Linked DNA regions of Homo sapiens: all the other regions are linked to region 3. The links come from fine-mapping of genetic effects on gene expression. A gene starts in region 3. Each other region holds a variant in brackets. All regions are shown on one strand. Distances are from middle to middle.

What was found. PIP is the estimated chance that this variant, and not a neighbour inherited with it, causes the effect.
Region 1: its variant is fine-mapped to the expression of B3GALT2 in whole blood (TOPMed, PIP 0.96).
Region 2: its variant is fine-mapped to the expression of B3GALT2 in whole blood (TOPMed, PIP above 0.99).

Annotation. Positions count from the first base shown.
Region 1 is chr1:193,430,140-193,436,855 of GRCh38, forward strand. No RefSeq gene overlaps it. Among named protein-coding and RNA genes, the nearest start is that of LINC01031, 130 kb to the left of the region's middle. The variant G/C (reference allele first, on the strand shown) is at 3,983.
Region 2 is chr1:193,237,306-193,244,021 of GRCh38, forward strand. All of the region lies in intron 15 of CDC73 (cell division cycle 73), which reads left to right. Among named protein-coding and RNA genes, the nearest start is that of B3GALT2, 54 kb to the left of the region's middle. The variant G/A (reference allele first, on the strand shown) is at 3,980.
Region 3 is chr1:193,183,435-193,190,150 of GRCh38, forward strand. B3GALT2 (beta-1,3-galactosyltransferase 2) reads right to left here and starts at 3,179. Exons shown (of 2, transcript NM_003783.3): 1 at 2,585-3,179. All of the region lies in intron 10 of CDC73 (cell division cycle 73), which reads left to right.

The DNA of each region.
Region 1 (6,716 bases), 250 kb after region 3:
AAGGCAAAACTCAGTCGATTTTTTTTTTTTGGCATTTCTTCTTAGATTTCTATCTCCTAACATAGGATCACTTATTTGTGAAATTATTTGTATACCTTTTTTATGGAGTGATGATGTGATACAAATTCTATCCTTAAGGATATAAGAACATCTTTTCTTTATATTAGGATTTTTCTGGACCCATGAGTTACATGCTTACTTCCCACACCCTCATATCTTGTTTAAATTTGTAGAATTAAATTCATAGGTAATTATTTCTGAAACTTCTTCCCTGTGTGAGCAATCTAAATAATTATTACAATGCCTTAAGTTGCAATCAGGAATGTTTACTTAGCACAGACTTTTTTCCCCACTACTGCACTCAAAGGATAACAGATATATGGCAAATCTAACCATATTCTTTGTCCTTTGTCCATGAAAAACACTTAATTGGTCACTGTGCACCAAACTTGACCTCAGGTTTTTCTTGACACGTATCTCAGGTAGACACTCACATTTAATTTGAGTTGATGCTTGAGGTGAAACCAAAGGCATTATTAAGTACTAATAGTGAATAGAGAAAGAAAATGATTTGGACTAACTGTGGGACAGGTCAGATTGACCTTAAAAATGAAATGTGTGATAACAAAATATCCAATAGCAAATAAAGGTCAATTTGGAACTGGGTATAACAAATGCTGTTGATGCACCTCCCATATCCTGTGGGCTCCCTGATTTTTATTATACCCATGTACAGTCCCAACCCACTGACAGATTCCCACCTTAAGCAACTGCATATTTCCCTTTCCCTGAGGGCTTTCTCATTGTTACTAGAGCTTGCTCAGCTGTAAAAGATAAACCAGAAAGTTTGAGGGAGCTAATCCCTGGGAGGCAATCCTTAATCTATAGGGGTGGCAGTGGTGGACACATGCCGTAGCCTCCCTGTCTTGTAGTGATAGGGTCCTGGGGTCCTGAAGTTTGGCTCTGGGGTTTCTCAGAGGATCTCCAGCTAGACTGAGCTCCTCTTGCTTTTTATTCATTTTTCTACCTTCCCTGTCTCACTTTCCTAACTTTCTTACCTGTCTTTCTGAGTTTACCTTCCAAATTGTCTATCTGCCTCTGAGTCCTTGTCTAAGCATCTGCTTTTAGAAGAGCCCAACTTAAGAATCAAGGTTAACAAACTAGTATAGGAATCATTAAAATTTTGATTATGTAATATGAATAAGTTCCAGAGGTCTGTTCTGCAACGTAGTACTGTTGACCAAAATATAAAGGTTGTTAAAGCAGAAATAATTTGATAAAAGTTTATTGGAAGCCAAATGTGAGGATTGGCCTGGGAAGACACACCCACAAAGTTAGGTGTGTTTCAGTCTGTTACACATTGGAAGGCTTTTATAAGAAAGTTTAGGAGAAGTGAGGGGGGCTCCTCATATCAGAGTTGTCCTTTTTCTTTGGAGGGTAGAATACATATGCAACATATAGGCTAAAATGTGTACATGCAAGACAATCATTAAAACTTCGTGATTCAGAAACAAATCAACAAAACTTCATGGTTCAGACATAAATGACTGTCCTTTTCAGTGTCAGTAGGTTACATATTAATCAGTACATCAACAATTTGAGGGACTCACAATAAGATTATTTACTTAGTGACAGGATGTAAGCCATGAATCATAAGACCTCCCCCAGCTGGTTAATTTGGAAGCCTGTCAAATGTGACCTATAGGTTATCAGTGCCTATATTTAACAATACTGTATTGTACACTTGTATTAGTCTGTTCTCATGCTGTTATAAGGACATACTCAAGACAGGGTAATTTATGAAGAAAAGTGGTTTAATGGACTCACAGTTCCACAGGGCTAGGGAGGCCCCAGGAAACTTACAATAATGGTAGAAGGGAAGCAAACACGTCCTTCTTCATATGGCAGCAGCAAGCAGAAGTGCTGAGAAAAAGTGGGAAAAGCCCCTTATAAAAATATCAGATCTCATGAGAACTCACTCACTATCACAAGAACAGCAGGAGGGTAACCACCCCCATGATTCAATTACCTCCCACTGGGTCCCTTCCAGGACACGTAGGGATTATGGGAACTATAATTCAAGATGAGAATTGGGTGGCAACACAGCCAAACCATACCTTTCCACCCCTGGTCCCTCCCAAATCTCATGTCCTCAAATTTCAAAACCAATCATGCCTTCCCACCAGTCCCCGCAAATCTTATTTCAGCATTAAATCAGAAGTCCACAGTCCAAAGTCTCATCTGAGACAAGGCAAGTCCCTTCTGCCTATGAGCCTGTAAAATCAAAACGAGTTAGTTACTTCCTAGGTACGATGGGAGTATAGGCATTGAGTAAATACAGCCATTCCAAATGGGAGAAATTGGCCAAAAAAATTGGCCAAAAAAAAGAGATGGCAGGTCCCATGCAAGTCTGAAATCCAGTGGGGCACTCAAATCTTAAAGCTCCAAAATGATCTCTTTGACTCCATGTCTCGTCCAGGTTACACTGATGCAAGAAGTGGGTTCCCATAGTCTTGGGCTGCTCGACCCTGTGGCTTTGCAGGATACAGCCCCCTTGCCAGCTGCTTTTATGGGCTGGCATTGAGTGTCTGTGGCTTTTCCAGGTGCATGGTGCTAGCTGTGGGTTGATCTAACATTCTGGGGTCTAGAGGACCATGGCCCTCTTCTCATAGCTCCACTAGGCAGTGCCCCATGTGTGGGGGCTCCCACCCCACATTTTCCTTCTGCACTGCCCTAGAAGAGGTTCTCTGTGAGGGCTCTGCCCCTGCAGCACACCTTTGTCTGGACATCCAGGTGTTTCCATACATCCTCTGAAATCTAGGCAGAGGTTCCAAAACCTCAATTCTTGTTATGTCTGTGTACCTGCAGGCCCAACACCACATGTAAGCTGCCAAGGCTTGGGGCCTGCACTCTGAAGAAATGGCCTGAGCTGTATGTTGACTCCTTTTGGTCATAGCTGGAGCGTCTGGGATGCAGGGCACCAAGTCTAAGGCTGTACATAGCACAGGGGTCCTGGACCCAGCACAGGAAACCATTTTACCCTCCTAGGCCTCTGGGCCTGTGAAGGTCTCTGACATGCCCTGTTGTGAAGGTCTCTGACATGCCCTATTGTGAAGGTCTCTGACATGCCCTGGAGACATTTTCTCCATTGTCTTGGCAATTAGCATTTGGCTCCTTGTTACTTATGCAAATTTCTGCTGCTGGCTTGAATTTCTTCTCAGACAATGGGATTTTATTTTCTACCTCATCTTCAGGCTACAAATTTTTCAAACCTTTATGCTCTGTTTCCTCTTGAATGCTCTGCCACTTAGAAATTTCTTCTGCCAGATACCCTAAAACATCTCCCTCAAGTTCAAAGTTTCAGAGACCGCTAGGGCAGGGGCAAAATCCGCCAGTCTCTTTGCATAGCAAGAGTGACCTTAACTCTAGTTCCCAAGTTCCTCATTTCCATCTGAGAGCACCTTAGCCTGGGCTTTGTTGTCCATATCACTATCAGCATTTTTGTGAAAGCCATTCAACAAGTCTCTAGAAAGTTCCAAACATTCCCACATTTTCCTATTTTCTTCTGAGCTCTCCAAACTGTTCCAGTCTCTGCCTGTTACCCAGTTCCAAAGTCACTTTTACATTTTTGGTTAGCTTCTCAGCAGTACCCCACTTCTGGTACCAATTTACTGTATTAGTCTGTTCTCATGCTGCAAGGAAGGAAAGAGATTTAATTGAAACACAGTTCCATAGGACTGGGAAAGGCCCAGGAAACTTACAATTATGGTGGAGGAGGAAGCAAACACGTTCTTCTTTACATGGTGGCAGCAAGAAGAAGTGCTGAGCAAAAGAGGGAAAAGCCCCTTAGAAAACCATCAAATCTCATGAGAACTCACTCACTATCATAAGGGTAACCTCCCCAGTGATTAAATTACCTCCCATTGGGTCCCTCTCAGGACACCTGGGGATTATGGAAACTACAAGGTGAGATTTGGGTGGG[G/C]ACACAGCCAAACCATATCAACAGTTAAACATTTTGTTAAGAGGGTAGATATCATGTTGTGTTTTTTACCATAAAATAAAACGTAACAAACAAACAAACACCTACAAGGTGGCATGAGGAAACTTTTGGGGGTGATGAACATGTTTATTACTTTGATTGTGGTGATGGTCTCACATACGTATGCATGTGTCCAAACCCATCAGATTGTATTCATTAAATATGTACAATTATTTGTATATCAATTATACCTCAATAAAGACGTTAAAAAGAAAACTCTTATCAATATCACTTTTAATATCTACATGGAAGCCATTAATGTTATTGTTCAGCTTTTAGAGTTGGAGGCCCCAGTGGTAGACAATTACTCATTTCCTCTCCCTGAAAGATTATACAGCCCTACTCTGTTGAGTTCAGGAGTGGCCATGTGACAACTCATGATTTTCTGTATTATTTTTTTCCTCTGGTTAAGGCAGGCAAAGTTCCAAGTAAAGCTACACTGTCAGCCTGAGCTCTGGAGTGAAGATGATAGACCTGGAGCAGAGTCTTAGTTGAACTATAATATACATGTATTAAGAATAAGAATATGTGTATTAAGTGAATAAGAAATAAACTTTTATTCCTTGTAAATTACTGAGACTTTGGAGTAATTTGTTGCCACAGCATAACTTAGGCTAAATTGACTAATATGGAATCTTTAAATATAATTTAGTACAGTGGTCTCATCTTGATTAATCATAAGATTAATTAGGGAGATTTACTAGGGAGATTTTTACATGTATAGATTTAAAATTCTGATACTAATTCAGTAGGTTTGGAGTGGAATGCAGGAATCTGCATTTTAACTGTTTGAAACCCAATCACTTTGCTTATTTTAAAGGTGAAAAGAGATTGACAATTTGAAAAGTTTTCCATTCTTTTAATTAATTTATTTAAAAAAAACACATTGTCATCTAGATGAGAGTTTGAATTAATTATAAAAATGTTTTCTCCTGAAGAACAGAAAGGTAAGCTCAATTGTACACCTGAATAGGGGAAGTTCTGAATTAGCATTATCAAAACTAATACAGTTTAATTGTATGTCATATATATAGGCCACCTGGGTTCAAATCTAATCAAAAATTATGAATGCATCATATTACTAAGGCCATTAGTAGGCCAGAAAGACAAAGAGTAGTAAGGCTTTAATAACAGAAGGTAAATTTGTTGCACACATGCACTCAGAAAAATAGTGCCCTTGCTATTAAGAGAGTATGTGTCTAGAAGGAGAACTCACTGTGGAGACCAGAGATCAAATTAAAGGTGGTTCAAGGTCAGCTGATGGAATTTTCTAGCATCACACTTGACAGCTCTATGCCATTCATTCGATTAGGTCACTGTATATGTTTACATTTTAGAAATTACTTATTCAATTTAATTTTGACTTTTTACTTTGTTGTCTCCAGCCTGAAGAAGACATTTTAATAGATGCAGCTGATGTCCTAAGTTCCCCCAAGGAGGAGAGAGTAGAGGCAAAAGATTGGCCCACATGTAAGTTAATATAAGGCAGAATTTGATAATTATAATAAGAAAGGAACTCCTCCTGATATGGATTGGATCTGTGTCCCCATCCAAATTTCATGTTGTATTATAATCCCCAATATTGGAGGTGGGGCCTGGTTGGAGGTGATTTGTTCATGGGGGTGAATTTCTCATGAATGGTTTAGTACCATCCCCTTGGTGCTGTCCTCATGATAGTGAGTGAGATCTGGTCATTTAAAAGTGTGTGTTACCTCTCCTCTCCCTCTCTTGCTTCTGCTCTGGCCATGTGATGTGTCTGCTCCCCATTTGTCTTTCACCATGATTGTAAATTTCCTGAGGTTTCCCCAGAAGCTGAACTGATGCCAGCGTCATGCTTCCTGTACAGCCTGCAGAACCACAAGCCAATTAAACCTCATTTCTTTATAAATTGCCCAGTCTCAGGTATTTCTGTTTAGCAATGCAAGAATGGCCTAACACCCCCCAAACTGACTTAGATTCTTTGCTGATCTATTTCTATAAGACAACTTCTGTTTGCAGGGGCATTTGCATATTGTTCAACTTAGGTTCCATAGTCAAGGATACTGCTACATATGTTCCACAAGAATCATAGCTGCATGAACTGCTGCAAAGGATGAGTTACATTTCCAGCTTTGGCTTCCTCACCACCATTTAACCCATTGCAATCTGGCAATTGATGGTGCTGTGTTTCTCAAACTGACTCCTCCAAAGATCACCAAGAACTTACCCCATTCATTATCTCTCTAGATTTTGATATTATTGATAAATCTTTTTTATTAAATACCCTGAGGCAGTCTTCTTTGGGTTAAATCCGGCCGGTGTTCTATAACCTTCTTGTGCTTGAATGTTGATGTGTTGCTCCAGGTTTGGGAAATTTTCTAATATTATCCCTTTGATTAAACTTTCTACGTCTTTCTCTCTACCTTCTCTTTAAGGCCAATAACTCTTAGATTTGTCCTTTTGGGGCTATCTTCTAGATCTTGTAGTTGTGCTTTGTTGTTTCTTATTCTTTTTTCTTTTGTTTCCTCTCACAGTGTATTTTCAAATAGCCTGTCTTCAAGCTCACTAATTTTCCTTTACCAAGTGAACTACTTGACTTGATCAATTCTGTTGTTAAGAGACTGATGCGTTCTTCAGCATGTAAACTACATTTTTCAGCTCTAGAATTTTTGTTTGATTCTTTTTAATTATTTAAATC
Region 2 (6,716 bases), 54 kb after region 3:
CTTCTGTTACCTTCATTCATTTAAAAAAAAAGAATTCTAATATTACTGACTGTAGGAAATTGGTCAGGGTGGTGGGAGAAATAGAAAAAAGATGCAAACCTTCTTGGAAGGCTGGGAGGTTTTGCAAAAGCTTTGAAAGATAATTTGGCTGAAGTCAACTGGATTCTCTTACCCGGAGCCTGATAGCAAAGATTAGATAACCTGGGGATGTAAAGAAATTGATCTAGATAAGTTAGTTTACTTAGGCCTCCCAGAACGTGGCCTTTAATCAACTGCAGGAGTCGGGAGGTAGGGGTGGCGGGTTGGAGGTGGTGTGGTGGGGTGGCGAGGCAGTGGTGACCACGTTAATTACCCACAAGTGTGTTGACTCAAAGCCTTTGTCATTAAATCTGTAATAAAAAGATGCTGGCATGTCAGGGCTGCGGCTGCTGTGACTCTTTACGGCATCCTCCTCGACGTCTGTGAGTGGCCCAGTCCCCTAGCTGCACGTCCAGGAAAAAACCTGTGTCTGCGTACATTTTCCTTCTGTCGTTCGGCCAGGATCTGCAGGTTGGGCCCGGCAACTGACATTATGATAGCTTTTTATGTTATTTCTGAAACTTGAGTGATACACAGAGTTGGTAAATGGGAAGTTAAATAAAAAGGGAATGAGAATTTTAATGAAAGTAAAATGTCAACGAGAATTCTTTTTTACCTACTTGCTTGCCTTGTTGAATAATGTTTCAACAAAAAATGATTAGGATGTCTTTAAGATATAAATGTTGTATGAAATTCATTAAGAATATAAAGTTTTAATTTTTGTTCAAATTTAGTCTTCTGAAATTTAGATAAGAATTTAGAGAATTTTAACAATCATCAGTGATTTACTTTCATGAACTGTTCTTTCTCTTTCACCTGTTCCTTCTATACTGACTCCTTTTTCTCAGCGTTTAAGAATACTCTTTCCCCTTCCTTCTTAAACAACAAAACAAAACCCTTACCGTTGACCTCACCCTTTCCCCTAGCTTCTTCTTTTTCCTTTTATAGCTGCACTTTGGAAAGAATTGTCTCTACCAACTCATTTTCTGTTCATATCCCCTGTAGTCTGGCTCTTGCTCTGTACTAAAGCTGTTTTCACTGAAGTCACCAGTGACTCAAATATTGGATACTGTTAACTTACCAGAATTTGATTCTGTTGACTCCTTTACTCCTTTTTAAGTTACTTTCCAAGTACCTGTTACACTTTGTCTCAGATTTTCTTGCTACTTTTCCTCTGGTTATCAACTGGAATGGACCCTTCAATATCATGCAGTTGAAAACTCCCATATAACTTTTGACTTATCCCAAACATACATACTAATAGCCTACTGTTGACTGGATGCCTTAACTGATAACATAAACAGTCGATTAACAAATATTTTACATGTTAGCATTGTATACTGTATTCTTATGATAAAGTAAGTAGAGAAAAAGAAAACGTTAAGAAAATCGTAAGAAAGAGAAAATACATTTACTGTTCATTAAGTGGGAGTGGGTTATCATAAAGGTCTTCATCTTCATTGTCTTCACATTGAGTAGGTTGAGGAGGAGGAAGGGTTAGTCTTGCTGTCCCAGGTGGCAGAGGCGGAAGAAAATCCATGTATAAATGAACCCACTCAATTGGAACTTGTATTGTTCAAGGATCAAATGTATATGGTTATGTCCCTATTTCTCTTCTCCCATAATTTTAAATACCCTCTCAAGAAGATCTCATAGCTTTCAATTACCATTTATATTCCCTCATTCTAAAAATTATGTCTTTAGCTCAATATTCTGGACCTATATACCTCACTCACTATGAGATAACTTCTCTGTGATATCTCATTGGTACATCAAACTCAACCTTTTCCAAATGGAATTGATGGTTTTACTCTCTTCCTTATTCCTCAAACTATTTCTTATTATCTGTTAGTCCTTTTCAGTAATTTGCCTAAGCCAGAAACTTGGGAGTATATTATCTTAGCTCTTGGTTGATCTTTCTGCTTTCACTCTTCTGGCTTCCAGTTGTTTTCTCCATCAGATTACACTGTACAGCATTGGGGGAAAACTGAGGGTATTTGGGAGCATCTCTGTGGGCCTTGATAGAAAATTATATTATATTTTGTTAATGTTGCATAATTATAATGAAATACATCGTTTGAGAGAAGATTAAATACTGATTTGCATAAAATTGCCAAATAAAATCTTTACAAATTTAGAATAAGTTTAAGCTGATATCTGGATATATTTTAGATATGTTATACTTGACGTGGCTATATTTATTTGTTGGTTGACATTTAAAATTTTTTTTTGTTGATACATAATATTTGTACATATTTATGGTGTACATGTGATATTTTGTTACATGGATAGAATGTGTAATGATCAAGTCAGTATTTAGGGTATGTATCACCTTGAGTGTTTATTATTTCTGTGTTTTGGGAACATTTCAAGTCATCTCTTCTAGCTGTTTAGAAATATATAATACATTATTGTTAAGTATAGCCTCCTACTCTGCTTTTGAACATTAGAATTTATTCCTTTGTGCAGCTGTTCACCATGGCATATGTTTAACTGTGTAACAGTCCTGCACATGTACCCCAGAACTTAAAAGTTAGAAATTAAAAAAAGAATTTATTTCTTCTACCTGTATGTTTGTACACATTAATCAACCACCTTTCATCCCTCTCCTTCCCTCCTGCCACACACATACACACACCCTTCCAACCCTCTAGTATCTTATCATTTTACTGTCTACCTCCATGAGATCAACTTTTAACGTTCCCACATAAAAGTGAGAACATAGGAAAATTTGTCTTTCTGTGCCTGGTTTCTTTCACTTAATAGAATGACCTTCCAGTTCTGTCCATGTCGCCTTGCCACAGATGACAGGATTTCATTCTTTTTTATGGCCACACAGTATTTCAGTGTGTATATATACTACATTTTCTTTATTCATCTGTTGATGGATTTAGGTTGATTCCAGATCTTGACTGTTGTGAATAGTGCTACAGTAAACAAGGGGTGCAAGTATCCCTTTGATAAACTGATTTTCTTTCCTTTTGAAAAATACCCAGTAGTAGGACTGCTGGATCATCCAGTAGTTCTGTTTTTAGTTTTGAGAAATCTTCATACTGTTTGCCATAGTGGCTCTACTAACTTATATTTCCACCAACAGTGTAGGAGTTCCCTTTTCTCTGCATCCTTGCCAGCATCTGTTACTCTGTTTTTAGTAATAACCCTTCTAATTGGGGTAAGATGATATTTCATCGTGGTTTTGATCTGCACTTCCCTGATGGTTAGTGATGTTGAACATTTTTTCATATATTTGTTTGCCATTTATTTGTATGTTACCTTTTGAGAAATTTCTGTTCATGTCCTTTGCCCACTTTTTAATGGGATTTTTTTTTAATTGTTGAGTTTCTTGCATATTAGTCCCTTGTTGGAAGAATAGTTTGCAGATATTTTCTCCCATTCAACAGGTTGTTCTTCACATTGTTTATTGTTTCCATTGCTGTACAGAAACTTTTTACTTTAATATAATCCCATCTATTTTTGTTGCCTGTGCTTTTGAGGTCTTAGCCATAAAGTCCTTGCCTCGACCAGTGTCCTGAAGCAGTTCTCCAGTGTTTTTCTGTGTTCTCTTGTATTCCACTCAGTTTCTGTGACATCATTATTTTGAATTCTTTTTCTGATATTTCCTAAGTTTATTTTTCATTGGGATCTGTAGCTGGAGAATTATTCTGTTTTTCTTTTTTTTGGAGGTATCATAATTTCTTACTTTTTCTGTTTCTTGTGTCCTATGTTGATATCTGCACATCTGGTATAAACATTGCTTCTTCTAGTTTTTTGAATTTGCTTTTTTAGGGGAGGACTTTTCCCCGAAGATGTACCTATGATTTTGATTGGGTGGGGCACTTTGGCTTTGGTTCTTCATACTGGCTGTGTAATTTCTAACCTATAAACAGCGTCAGTGGTGTCT[G/A]TGGTTTCCTCAGTGGCTTAAGGTTTGCTTGTTAGTGGAGGGTGTGGTGAAGTTTTGCTGGGGTCAGTGACATCAGGCAGGCTATTCCTTGGGCCCCAGTGGTGGCAGCAGCAGGCTGAGCCTGCCTGTTTTTGAGTCCCAAGGCCACGTATGCTGGCACCTGTGCTAGTAAGTCCAGACATCATCTTGGGTGCCAGCAGTGGCAGTGGTGAGCCTGGAGGGTGAGCAGGTCAAGTTTCTGGGCAGTGGGCAATGGCAGTAGCAGTGAAGGGGCAACCTCTGGCTCCCCAGAGGTCCACACTGTTACCAATTGTGGCTTTGATGGGCTGGACAGGACAGTGCGCAGGCCCACAGGGGGTGTGTGCGGGTGGGTAACAGTTGTGGTGGTAGTGGCAGGTTGGTTGGGCGTGTCTTCTGCCCCTGGGAAAAGTGCTCAGGTGCCAACAGTGGAGGATGTTGCAGGGCCACCCTCAGGCCCCAAAATGTGTGCTCAGGCACTGCTAGGGCGGCAGAAGGGGAGGACAGAGCCCAGCCAAGTTGGCCTGTCCTCAGGCCTCCAGGTCGCAGGCAGGGGTGGGGTGTTCTTCAGGTCCTTGGCAGTGTGCTACCAGCACTTGGGTCCTGCTGCTGGGGAGAGCAGCGTTGTTTTCAGTGGCAACGGCCAGTAAGCAGGCATCTGGGGCATGTGAGCTTCCGCCAGTTGGTGGCTGTGATTGGGAGAATCTGTCCTCAGGGTGCTTTTAAATACGTGACTGTTGGAGTTGTGGGGTCACTGCCAGTGGCTTGCACTTAGATATCATCATTGTCTGCAGGTTTGCAGGGGTTGGGGGGCTGTCTTCAGGTGCTTCCCCCACCCCGACTTAGGGTGTAAGGACTCTTGGGCCCCAGGGTAGGATGCAGTCTGGTGGGGGCCGAGCCCTCAAAATGGCGCTGTGCTGCATGCAGCTGCTTAGGGCATGTGTAGGACCCAAGCATGAACCTCCTATCTGGAGCATCTTGTGGTCTCTAGGCAGCTTTCTGTGTTGGTGTCAGGACCCCTGAGGGTCATGTGGCTCTCCCCTGGCTAGGATTGCAGGAGTCTGAGGTGGGAATGTGGACCATTAGGGGTCTCTCACCCTTATCTCACTGGTGAGCCCATCCTGGCTTCCCTTCTCCTTCCTTGCCTTAGGTGTTTCTGCTCACTTTATCTGTTGAATTCCAGTGCACTCTCTTAGATCATCTATTCAAAGTGTGATTATCTACTCACTGTTTTGGTTCTTTTTGTTTGTTGACCCTCCTGGTAACTTACAGAAGGTGGTTCTTCTTTTTGGAGGAGGCAGGTGCCAGATGCCTCTAGTTAGCTATCTTGAAGCCCCTCTCAAGATATTTTTAATGATAAATGTCTTCAAATTATTGCTAGCTACCATTGAAAAAATATTTTTATTTAATAATCTTCTGTATTATCCCTTTATCATTTGTCATGCGATCAGTATATCTAAATATTAAAAGGGCACCTCTTTGATCTCTTTTGCTTTGTTGCTTTCCCCAAAAAATGTTGGCAGCATTCATGAAGTTTGCAAAAACAAGCAATTCTGAGTTGTGTGAAATATTTTGCAGTTGTAATTCATTGTGCTGCGGTAAAACTGGCTTCTTACAAAAGAACTTTATTTCTTTTTCTTCTTCTTCTTCTTCTTTTTTTTTTTTTTGGAGATGGAGTCTTGCTCTGTTGCCCAGGCTGGAGTGCAGTGGTGCAATCTTGGCTCCCTGCAACCCCCAGGTTCAAGCAGTTCCCCTGCCTCAGCCTCCTGAGTAGCTGGGATTACAGGTGCACGCCACCATGCCTGGCTAATTTTTCTATTTGTAGTAGAGACGGGGTTTCATCATGTTGGTCTGGTCTCAAACTCCTGACCTCAGGATCCGCTCTCCTTGGCCTCCCAAAGTGCTGGGATTACAGGCGTGAGCCACCGTGCCCAGCTTACTTCTTGTTTTTAACTTCCAGAGGCTTAAAAACTTTTAATACTTTTTCTGAATAGGAAAGATTTTTTTTAATGATAATATGTTGGTGTAAGTTTGTTTCGCATCATTGCTTCATGCGAATAAAGTATGAGTGAAACTTTATATGTTTTTAAAAATTAGTGACTTACACTTTTTGGACTCTAGTATCCTAGCTTTAAATTTAAAAGTTGTCTATTCTGGTGGAAAAATAAATATCAATAAAGATGAAATCTGTTGAAATTATTAAAGAAGACTGTAGGCCATTATGGCTTCAGTTTGATCATTTTAAAAAATGTAACTTAGATGCATTCTGAAGAATGATTAGCAAATAGTTGAACAAGTTAGAAAAGCAACACCTAAGCAGAATGGAAATGATTAAAATGTTGATTTACACTGAATGCATGAGTTTTAAATTTTTTTTAATTGACAAATTTATTTTACACATGAATACTACTTTGAAAGTAAGTTTCTTGAATGTTATTACATGTAGCCCCTTTAATGAATTTGATTAAATTCAAAATGAATAATTTATGTCTGATGAAGAGACTTTTATTTATAAAAGCAAATAAATTAGAAATAAGTTTATTTTTCTGGGCACAAATTATTCATTTTAAATGTTTATTAAGAATTGAATCTTGATTAGTTGTTAACATCAAAAGCCAATATGCTAGCAAGCAATATGAAACAAGCAATCCATAAAATAGCTATCAGAAAAAACTTTAAAAGTCAATTGTTTTCTCTTTAAAACCTCTTATACCAGGTT
Region 3 (6,716 bases):
AGAATTTGTTTATATGAATTTAAACTCAGCATTAGTGTAATGAAAACCAAGGCTATTCACTGTACCAACAAAACATAGTTCTGCTGTAAGCTAAGCTGAAAATAATAGAGCTGAGCATTCTGATTTAGAAACTCAGTGTTTTCCTTCTTGTACTTTTAAATAGCTGGCCATTCTTTTTAGACCAGGGAACTATTTTTAAGCTTTTATTTCCAAATGACATATTTGGTAAATAATAATGACTCTCCGCTCCACTTCATAAGGATATCAGTAGATATAAGGGTTATGTATGTAAATTCAAAAGAAACAAAAGTTGCTTTTAAAATTTATTTGATAATCTGTTCTAAGTGTTACAAAGATAAGTTATCTGTTTTCTGCTGATATGATAATACTTGGAATCTGGTTGAAGTCCAATTATACAGATTTTTTTTAAAGTGTAAATTTGATGGTGTAAGAAGGAGTAAACAATAAGGTCAGATGTTTGAATGGATGTTTGAGTTAAAGGACTGAGTAAATAAATGATGGAAAATAATCATAATTTATGTTGCTTTTATAAGAACAATATACCTGAAGATGTCTCTAAAGTATTTTAGTATTACAGAAAACAGCAAATTATTGCATATTGTAATGTAGCATAAATACATAGTTTTGGTCCTAATATGATTTTGTAACAGTATGTGATAGAGATGCATCTTAATTTAGACTTCATGGTATTTGTATGTTTTAGATGTTAAGCTGTTGAGATATTAAATCCATATATAACTATAAATCTCCCATTGATAAATGAAGTGCATGTGTCTAGCCTTTAAAAAATTCCTTATTAAAAGATTCTCAGGTCTTATAAATTTTTTTGTTAAAAAGAATATAAAATTAAAATAACCATGCCTGCTTTTTATTAAATGATAAAATTATTCTCCAGTTATTGCCTGTTGTATTTTAATTCTTAAAAAGAGAGAGCAAAACAAGAAAGTTCAGTAGTATGCAAAATAGTTCTGCACTTTTACATTTTTAGAAGAGAAATAGCTTTGGTTTATCTCTTCTTTTTTGATATCTTCACATTATTAATGTGTATTTATAGCTTGTGGATGAAGTTCATGGGGAGAATGTTACTGTAAAATGCTGTTCAGTACACACTCAGTTTTTATCATTTGGCTTTTAAAAGTGTTGATCTCTTTAGTCTGTTGGTGATGGTTTAATAGAAAAACTTACACTTTTGTTTTGAGATGTATAGCTTATAAAACTGCTTAATTGGTGACTTCAATATTGAGAGATTAAGGTACCAAGAGGGACTTGAAATTTTTACAACCATATTTTTTAGTACTATTTATTATTAGTCTTTATTAGAATAAAAATTCATGGGTGAGAGTGATGTTGAGGTGTAATAGAGTCTGGTAAACTTGTTTAATCTTCATTTTGGAATGCAGTACTTACATATTTTTAAAAAATGTTTGCCTTTTGTGATTATTAGATAATTACTGAGTTGTGTTGTGAAATTGAGGAAAAATCAGGATCTTTGATAGATTTGTAGAATTTTAGAAATATCTTTAAGTTCTTGAGCCCTGAGTTGCTGTTCTATGATTGTTGCTAAAATAGTTTATTTGGTTTATCTGTGCCCTGCACACACATATAGTGGCGGTAGTTCATTACTGCATATTAATATAGCCTGGAAGCATAGTAGCTACATTTATATTTAATTTTTTGACCTTGTATTGCCATTTGTGGATATTTTTGTATCAAAGTATTTCCATATTATGTTTTTGAATTTCACTTCTGAAATGATAATCAGAGACAACGTTAAATTTGATCATTTGGAATCAGTCTTTTACATAAAATGTAAGCTATTTAAAATAGTTAATTTTTAAAGCCACTATTGATGTCCCTTTGTTTAAAGTTCTATTCATGGTCACTATAATAACACGAGGCTCTATTGTGGGGTTATGCATAAACTCACACTACCTTATGTGATCTTATGTTAATGCTTTCCTTTTAGTATCTTCTTGTAGCTTGGTAATATTTAAAATTTGTTGATACTCTCTTTGGTTGTGTTCATTATCTTCATTTAGGGAGATGTTGGGGAAGATTTTGTTACTAAAAGCTGTTACATATTAAGGTTTTGTTTTAAAAGGACTTTGAAAAAAAAACTCTTAAGGTTTTCCTTGCTACTATTTAATGAAATTTCACTGCATTGTGTCTTTTGATAGCCATTTTTAAGAGAGCATTTAATTTACTAGATAAGGATTCAGTTTGACCTAATTTGATAGAATATTGCTGTGTTTTTTGTAAAGGGCTACAGATTTTTTTTTAAGTTTAATTTCTTAAGGAATCCTTTAAACACATCTTCTTCTTATTTGCCTTTTCCCTCTGATGTCTATTACCCAGAATTACTCCAAGCTACATATTTAGCTGCATAAAGCAGTGACAGCTTGTCTTCTAAACAATGACAAATTTTAAAATCAGATATTAAGAAACCTTTTCATAGTTTCAAGGGCAGTGAGCTGTATGAACTTGCTTATCAGGTATTAGTGCCTCCAGGGCTATAAAAAGGTAACACATTTAAATGACTATCATACACAAGATATTGACATACCTTCCTTGGTCAGGCCATTTATGTGAAGAGGATTATGCCCACTGAAAATACTTTTGGCACGCCATCACTTCAGCAAAAAAGATGCTATCGAACATGCGCACATCCCCCAACAGTCTGCCTCCTGCGATTGCTTTTCACAGTATCCAAAGTGTCCATCTGTCTGCTTGTCTTCGAGTTACCCTCCTTGTTCATATGGGTCCTAGTCTTCTGAAATTTTCCCTTTCTTTCATTTTCTCTCTTTCGTTAAACAAAAGAGCTGTAGTTGCCCGTTCTGCTTGTAGCACTGTTGACTCTTCCCGACAGTTGATGCATTGAAGCTTTTTACATCTGCTATTTTCCTGGCTGGACAATGCAGTGCTGTGTTCTCGTCTCAGTATCCATATTTCTACTAATAACACTGAGCTGCAATGTAAAGCAGCCAGAGCTAAAATGTAGTGCTTCAGTTGTATTGGAAAAGAATAGGATTTACCTCTCTTCTTTCGTTGTTGCCTGGCAGCTGCAGGAAGGATTTTGAGCAGTTTTAATGGGGTTTTAGTCTATAATATGAAATCCACGGTTCCTCAGCTGCTGCACAGGCAGGCAGCAGTTTAAATGTGGGCTTGACAGATGCTCTCTCTGACAGAGCAGAATTTAACGTCACTGCTTGGCTGAATCCCACGTGATTGTTTGCATTCATTTTGACTAAAAACCTAAGGTAGGGAGAAGCTTAGAGATTTTGCTTTTATGTGATAAATTATATATGTTGAATGCAAGTGTAGTGATGAGTGAATAATTTGAAAATGTGATGATTATGAAATGGTTATGATTTTATTTTTTCCAGCTTACTTCCTTTTTTAACTTTATTCTTAAGTACAGGCTTTCTAAGTGTTTTCTGTGTTAGATGTTGGTTTTCATGTTTCTTACATGCTTTTGTAGGGTGTAAGCAGTATAAGCTTTTGTGTGTAAGTTGGTGTAATTTAACCCCTTCAGTGCATTCTCTTCTTGAAGTTTTTTTTCTCTGCTTTCAAATTGCTCTTGATTTTTTACTAATATGTAGTTAAGACCTATGGTTTCTATTGAAACCATGTATCTTTGTAATTTAGATCCCCCCCCCCGTTTTCTGGGGTTTGTATAAATAAGCTGTCTTGGATTACTTTACTAATGCATGATGTGATACAGCCCACTTCTTTTTTGCTCTTATGTGGTTTTTGGTGTTCTTGATGGCAGAAAACTTTATTTTAAATCACTTTTTAATGTTGTCATTTATTTTTTATTTATTTTTCCTTCCCTTTAAAATTACATGTATCGTAGAATTCAGTAAAATGATGTAATAGATATAGCACACTTGTACAGGATCTGGGGGTAATGAGATTTTACTAATTATGTTTACTTATTCTAATGTTTCAGAAAGATTTAATAACTTGCCATGAGGCAGATTTTATTAACACTACACACTCACTGAGATTTTTCTAATATGGTTAGTTTCTGGGGCTGGCACCTTCTTTTCTTACTGCAGAGCAGTAGGGAAGGTTTTTTTAAATTTTTTGTTGTAGTAAAAAGCCTTTATTATCAGTTTTTCCTCTGTGACTCTAGGGACAGTAATTCAGTCCTAGAAAGTTATAGTTTTGGAGCTTAAGCTAAAGGTTAACAGTTATATACATATTCTTCATCTCACTGCCTCCACCATTAATATATGCTATTTCAAATGAATATGAATTTGTTTTCTCTGATATTAAAAAAAATTTTGTCCACATATTTTTGAGCTTTGCTGATGAAATGTGCTTTGTAGTTTTAAGAACCCCACTGTATTAGAAATGTTAGAAGGATCGTTAAAGAAAAAAAAGAATTTTATAAATAGGAAACCTAAAGCCTAGACTGAGCTTTGACTTTTCCTAGTTAAGTTTGAAGGAGAGGACTAAAACCCAACTTCCTTGTAGTCTATATCCACCCATACTGCAATTCTCACTCACTACCGTTTTGTTTTTAAAATTAGTTTACTAGTTAACAGAGTAATGCTTAAGAACTTACTTAAAATAACTTATTTTCCAGAAGTACAGATGTGTTTTTGTAGATCAGTATTTATTTATCAGTGATTCTTTACATAGGATTTGACTATGAAGCTAGCCACAATGACCATTTATGGAGTATTTACTGAAAATCAGATTGCGTGCTAAGCTTACTTGAGCTGTTATGCAAATGGCTCTTTTCTAATAATTTTATTATTGTAATACCCACTTAAAAGATGCAGAACCAGTGCCTGGAGTTGTAAAATAGTCCAAATGTCAGATAAATACTGATAAGAATAGAGGCCAAGCTGGGAATTGAAGCAAGATTATCTAAATTCTTATCCTCTGTGTTTTTGTTTTCTTTTTAAATCTATCTAGTACTATCATTATTCTCTGTTCTTAAACTTTTTATTACATGGCACTGCTAGAGAAATTGTGGGATTTTTTTTTTTTCTGAACACTGGCGCAGCATACCCAGGAATCATTAATAGAATAATAAATGAATGTTTATATTTTCACTTTTTCAACAGGTACATATTGATTAACTACTGTGTACCAACATGTGCATTTAGGCATAGCTTATTAAGTATAGGGGATACAAAGTTGATTTAGAGACATTCCCTACCCCTTTCTCCAGGAAAGGACTAAATAATTATTATTCTTTTGCCAGTTCTTTTGATTGGATTTTTTTAATGTCTCCCTGGATTATTATAGATTTTGATTATTAAGAGAGTTATATGGGTAACGTATTCATTAGTGGGTCCCTCCAGTATCGGATTGAGTCCCTGAATTTCCAGTGGGACCCCCCCGCCCCGAACTGCTTGTTATGGGACAAGTATTTAAACAGCAAGAAACTTCCAAATATTACTAACAAAAGGTGCCTATGTACTTAACTGGAATTTACTTCATACTTTAAAAGTACAGCTGCAACCTCTTTCTTTCTGTCTGTCTGTTTTTTTTTTTTTTTGGAGACAGAGTTTTGCTCTATTGCCCAGGCTGGGGTACAGTGGCACGATCTTGTCTCACTGCAACCTCTGCTTCCCAGGTTCAAGAGATTCTCGTGCTTCAGCCTGCCGAGTACCTGGGATTACAGGCGTGTGCCACCACACCCGGCTAATTGTTGTATTTTTACTAGAAGTGAGGTTTTACTATGTTGCCCAGGCCAGTCTCAAACTCCTGACCTCAGGTGATCCACCTGCCTTGGCCTCCCAAAGTGCTAGGATTACAGACGTGAGCCACAGTGCCCAGCCAACCTGTTTGTTAAATTTAAGTTAAGCTAGTTAAGAACTTTACGTAAAGTTCAGGAAAACAGGGCAGATGTGAGATAAAAGTTCCTTTAGTAACTTTTTGTAGCAACCTACATGTTTCCAGTCAAGAGAAACTGTAAAAATCTTATGACAGGAGAGCTTGTAGAAGTTCTTCCTTTAGTCTAGTTTCTTTTAACATCTGAATTCTATGGTTAAACTAATTCAGTAAATGTGACAGGTTTCTTTTTCAGATTCAGCAAACTGGCAGCTATTTTGTTAAGTTTTATAGTTATAAATGGCTTGTAATTGTCACTTGCATAAGTCTATTTTTAATCCTACAACACATCCGTGATGGCAAAATAGGTGGCCGTTACTATGTGCATCATGGCCAGAGCTGTCCAGGCCGGTTTTAGCATTTTCCTGGGCATGTCTAGTATAGACTTCAAGGAGTCAGAATTTAAAGACAGGAATTGTAATGCCTCCTAATTGTCAGTTTTTACTGGGTATAGGAATAATTATTTTTGTATTCATGTAGTTAATGGTTTTGAATGATTATTACATGTTGAATCAGATGTAAATCTGCTGTTCAAGTGGCTACTAAATAGTAACTCATGGAGTTACATCATCTGTTTATCTATGTATGTACATTCAACAATATGTCCTTGGTAAAAAGATTAAAAGAGAAAGGTAGGGGGAGAGCACTTCAACCAGGGTGGATGATTTTCATCTAATGGGAATGAGCAAAATCCTTGAGTAACATTAGAAGGGAGACATGAATCTGGTCTTCTTATATTGGTCTCCTTTCCTGTTTGTGCTTTATTATGAGTGGTTGGTCCCTGAATTCAAGGAATTAATTTCAGCTAGGACTTACCAGAAATACCAGCTATTTTTTCCCATGTT